Regions from separate parts of the Homo sapiens genome. Here region 2 is linked to region 1. Evidence: fine-mapped expression QTL. Tissue or cell type: whole blood. Region 1 holds a variant in brackets; the other region holds the start of a gene. All regions are shown on one strand. Distances are from middle to middle.

What was found. PIP is the estimated chance that this variant, and not a neighbour inherited with it, causes the effect.
Region 2: it holds the start of PPP6C, and the variant in region 1 is fine-mapped to the expression of PPP6C in whole blood (INTERVAL, PIP 0.95).

The regions. Positions count from the first base shown.
Region 1 is chr9:124,952,178-124,954,940 of GRCh38, forward strand. It overlaps SCAI (suppressor of cancer cell invasion), which reads right to left. Exons shown (of 18, transcript NM_001144877.3): 18 at 1-776. The coding sequence ends at 630. Among named protein-coding and RNA genes, the nearest start is that of GOLGA1, 12 kb to the left of the region's middle. The variant G/A (reference allele first, on the strand shown) is at 1,420.
Region 2 is chr9:125,188,241-125,190,872 of GRCh38, forward strand. It overlaps PPP6C (protein phosphatase 6 catalytic subunit), which reads right to left and starts at 1,563. Exons shown (of 7, transcript NM_002721.5): 1 at 1,404-1,563. The coding sequence starts at 1,478. RefSeq lists enhancers at 885-1,671, 1,672-2,458, 1,761-1,840.

The DNA.
Region 1 (2,763 bases):
CAAGTAATATTACCACCTCAAGTCCTCAATCAAGATGTAGCTTTCAGATGCAATTCAATCCAATTTCTGAAATTATGACAGTATTGAAAGAAATTAAATGATTTCAAAAAACTGGCTTGATCATGTTTCAAAGGATCAAACATTTTTCTACCAGCTAAGTTGGAATGAGAAAAAATATATTATGGAGGGACTCTGTTCTTGATTTTCAGTAGTCCATGGTGGCTAGCTTCATCATTATGAACCATTACATATTTCCAAATCCAGACATTTAACTTAGGTCCAAGTATAAGAGTTGGATTTACCTCATTATACAAAAATAAATGATTTACTCTTCTCAGGGTGAGAATAGTGACTATTTGAGTGTAGGATTAGAAGTTGGAGGTAAATATCCATCCCTCAAAATCAAAAAATAAAAATTCCAAGGTTAAGATTTTAAAAGACCTGAAAGGTTGCATTTTAAAACAGTTACCCTAAAAGTGTGAACATTTTTTTGTTTGTTTTTAAAATGGTGGCCCTAAATTAAAAAATAAAAACTAAGTAACACCACTATGTGTCTTATCACGTTAGAAAACTGCACCATTTAAAATTTGTGGAAAATGAAAACTTGTTTCGACAACAGGGTTTTTGTTTTAATAGTCATCAATGGTATTCTCAAAGAACACGTTTCGAACATCCAGAATGGATGCTAATTCCAAAATGTGCTTCTGGAGATGAGGATTCTCCACTGTTTCATCCCTTGGCAGTTGTGGATATGATTCTGGATAATTTCGTGTTTCCTGGTAGGCAAAGAAGAGAAAAGTCAAGTTTTGTAGTCTAATGAAAGAAAATTATACACATTGATAACAGTGTCAAGGAGTAATATGTATTTTCACTTTTATACTGGAATGATTCTTATTAATATATTTGTTGAATATTGAATTGCTGATATTTAACCATTTTGACCTCTAAAAATGACAGTTTCAGATGAATCAATGTAATATATTCATTTAGTGAGTTATTCCACAAATGTTTACTGAGGCCTATTGTTGCTAGACACTATGCTCTGTATCACGTGGAAACCATATAATTCATGCTACTGGGGGGAAAATCCTAACACATATAGAATTTCAACAAGTATATGTTAAATAAATAAAAAGATATTGCTTTGGAAATTAAAATGAGGCTGGGGCAGCCGGGCACCATGGCTCACGCCTGTAATCCCAGCACTTTGGGAGGCCGAAGCGGGCAGATCATGAGGTCAGGAGTTTGAGACCAGCCTGGCCAACATGCTGAAACCCCATCTCTACTAAAATACAAAAATTAGCCGGGCATGGTGGTGGGCACCTGTAATCTCAGCTATTCAGGAGGCTGAGGCAGGAGAACTGCTTGAACCCGGGAGGCGGAGGTTGCAGTGAGTTGAGATCACGCCATTGCACTCCA[G/A]CCCAGGTGTTTCACCATGTTGGCCAGCCTGGTCTCGAACTCCTGAACTCAGGTGATCTGCCCGCCTCAGCCTCCCAAAGTGTTGGGATTACAGGCGTGAGCCACCGTGCCCGGCCTAGAAATTCTTCTTCATTTGGTAAGTTCTATAAACTATAATCCTGCCATACATTTAAAATTTCCTGAAGAAGTTGCTACTTTTCTGTACATTTCATGCAACAGTTCATACATACAAATGTTAACTTCTCTCTACCTATAGGACTCACTCACACATTACAAAAATAAATTTTTTTTTTTGAGATAAAATCTCACTGTGTTGCCCAGGCTGGCTTACTGCAGCCTTGCAATGAGCTCAAGCAATCCTCCCACCTCAGTCTCCCAAGAAGCTGGCACCACAGGTGTGCACAACCATGCGCAGCTAATTTTGGTATTTTTTGTAGAGACAGGGTCTTGCCATGTTGGTCTTGAACTCCTGAGCTCAACCAATCTACACGCCTCGGGCCTCCCCAAGTGCTGGGATTACAGGCGTGAGCCACTGCACCCAGCCCTAATTAGAGGTTTAAATACTACTGTTTCAGAAATTGAAAAAGCAGACAGAAAATCAACAAAAATACAGAAGATACAAAGAACACTCTTCAATTTAGTTTAATATCAAATGGAACAAACTGACATTTTTATATCATTCCATCTAGTAATAGCAGAATACACTGAATTCTTTTCAAGTGCAGATAAAACCACTGCCAAGATAATTCACATGCTTGGGTTAAAAAACAAACTGAATAAATTTTAAAACTGAAACTATACAGTTAAAGCAATGCTTAAAAGGTAAGTACTTCTATGCTCAATAGTTACACAATCCTCCCACTGAAACATCACAGCAATCTCATGAGGTAGCTTCTGTTATCATTTTACAGATAAGTAAACTAAGGCTAAGAAAGGTGAGATCACTCTTCAATGTCACACAGCTAGTGAGAGGCACCTTGTATTTTTTTAGTAACGGTTTTATTAAGATACAATTAACATACCATACAATTCACCCATTTAAAGTATACAATTCAGTGGCATTTAATATATCCAGAAAGTTGTTTAACTATCACCACAACCAATTTTAGAGCATTTCGTCACCCCCAAAAGAAGCTCTTTATTCTCTAGCAGATCCCTCCCCCATTCGCCCCAGTCCCCTCCCTCAGCCCTGGATAACCACGCATGTGCTTCTGGTATCAAAAAATTTGCTTATTCTGGACATTCCATATAAATAAGTCATATAATATGTGGTCAAAAATAAAAGGTGGCCGGGTGTGGTGGCTCACCCTTGTAATCCCAGCACACTGGGAGGCCAAAGCAGGC
Region 2 (2,632 bases), 240 kb after region 1:
CAGGCGTGGTGGCGGGCACCTGTAGTCCCAGCTACTCGGGAGACTGAGGCAGGAGAATGGCGTGAACCCGGGAGGCGGAGGTTGCAGTGAGCCGAGATGGTGCCACCGCACTCCGGCCTGGGCGACAGAGCGAGACTCCGTCTCAAAAAAAAAGAATACACTGAGTCGGTTAAATACTAGCACGAGCTGATAAGCACTGCTAGAAACCTAAGCTCTGATTTCAGCAAATGCATAGAAACACTTTTCAAAGAAGCAGTATACCTAGGCCGGCGCGGTGGCTCACGCCTGTAATACCAGCACTTTGGTAGGCCGAAGCGGGCGGATCACTTGAGGTCAGGAGTTCAAGACCAGCCTGGCCAACATGGCGAAACCCCGTCTCTACTAAAAATACAAAACAGCCGGGCGTCGTGACGGGCGCCTGTAATTCCACCTAGTCGGGAGGCTGAGGCAGGAGAATCGCTTGAACCCGGGAAGTGGAGGTTGCAGTGAGCCAAGATCGCACCGCTGCACTCCAGCCTGGGTGACAGAGTGAGACTCTATCTCAGTTAAAAACAATAATAATAATAATAATAATAATAATTAAAAAGTTTTAAAAAAGAAAAGCAGTATACCAAAGTCATTCCTTTACCCATACATACATTTACTCTTACTTGGACTCAGGAGTAACAAGGAACTCACCTCCTTTAGAAAACGAAGAAAATGAAATACTGAGTTAAGAAGGGGTTAAGGAGAAAGTATTTGTATTTATTGAGAACCAACTACTTTATCCACTTCAGTAAGCTCAACAACATACTCAGAAACGGGATTCACCTCTGAATTAGCAAAACCGACGATCCTAAAAAGCAATTTGGAGGAGTGGCAATGAAGAGGGACGACCTGACGTTCGCTCCCGCCAGTACCAAACCACTCGGGCCCACCGCCTTCCCCTTCCTCAGAGACCTAAACACACTGAGGCCGCGTTCCGGTAGCCGGTGGCATCTCCTGTCAGACGCCGGCCACTCCGCGCTCCTGTCACCTCCGGTGGAGGCGACCCCATCCCGAGGGCACTGCCGCGGGGGCTCGGCTCCGACTGCGGGAGACCCAGGGATGGGGTGGGGAGCCGAGCCTTCTAAATAAAGCTGTTACAGCTGCGGGTCCTGGGGCAGCCCGAAGGCCAGAAGGGGCGACCCTGGGACAGAGGCCGCGACATCCCTCGGGATCCCCACTGAGGCAACCGGGACAGCATTCGACGACTCGGCTCGCGAGACCCTCGGCGTGACGCCGGGTAGGACCGGGTCGACTGGCAATGGGGGAGGCCCTCCACCGCGACTGGACTGGATACCCGGCGGGGGTCCTGGAGAAAGGAAGGGCCGGCCGGCGGGCGCCCCACAGCCGGAAGGGGCGAGCCCGCAAATAGGGCTCACCTTCAGGTCGTTCTCTGGCAGGTACTTGCACAGCCGCGCTATTTCCACATACTTGTCCAGGTCTAGCGGCGCCATTTTAAGAATAACAAGCCGCGGCAACAGCGGCGGCGGCGGCTGTAGCAGCGGCGGCGGCAGCGGCGGAGGCCGAAGCCGGAACTTTCCCTGCGTCACGTCCGGCCCGTGAGTGGCGCCTGCGCAGCGCCGTTAAAGCGCGACCCGTTTCTCCCCGCTACGTCGGTACGCCCGGCGCCCCCTCTGGCTGAACCCCGACTGCAGGCCCCAAGAGAGCCCGCTTCGGTCCACCCCGCGAAACCTGCTGGGACCCGTAGTCGTCTGCCGCGGGGGTGCTGGGATGTGTAGTTTTCTGTTGTGGACAGCCACCCCTCTCTTTTCCTCCCGTTCCTCCAGACTTTCACCTCCCGGCAGCCGGCGAGGCTTTTCCGAGGCAAAACAGCGGAGTAGGTGGTCCTAGCCACTCACTGGTTTGTTTTTCCAACCCTTTTAAGCACTCTCCAGAATATCTTCACTTAACAATTGGGTAAGCCTGGCCGTAGTAACCGTTTGCACCTTTCCAAGTCCCTGTGAAAACCTCGCCTAAGCCTGTGGCAGAGATGTCAGGCCCCAGTCTTCCAGCCTGAAAGGAAGGGAAACGAATATTATTAAAGCATTTCTGATGCTAAATGCGATACAAATGATATTTTTCCTTTTAATCTTCGTAACGATTGATAGGAAAGTGAGGCTAGGAAACTGCAGTTCACCCCAAATCTCACAGGGAACAAAATGGTGGGGTCAAGATTGAAAAATGGCTTAAGCTTAAGCATGCTTCCAGTGAGAATCCCACGAGGGCAGGGAGTTTTTTGCTGTAACTCCAGCACCGAGAACAGTACCTGGTACTAGCATACCTTCAGCGTTCGTTTATCCAACCACTCTTTGCTGAGCAACAAAGATGTGCCAGGTACAGCTCAAGGCGCTTGCAGTACTTCGTGAACAAAATAGACAAAGATCTCTATTCTATCTGTAGCTACAAAAAGTACCAAAATTAGCCTGGCGCGGTAGTGCGTGCTTGTGGTCCCAGCTACTCTGGAGGCTGAGGCAGGAGAACCGCTTGAGTTGGGAGGCGGAGGTTGCAGTGAGCTGAGATCGCGGCACTGCACTCCAGCTTGGGCGACAGAGCGAGATCCTCCTCAAAAATAAATTAGTAAAAGGAGCTGCTGTATGGGACTAGGGGT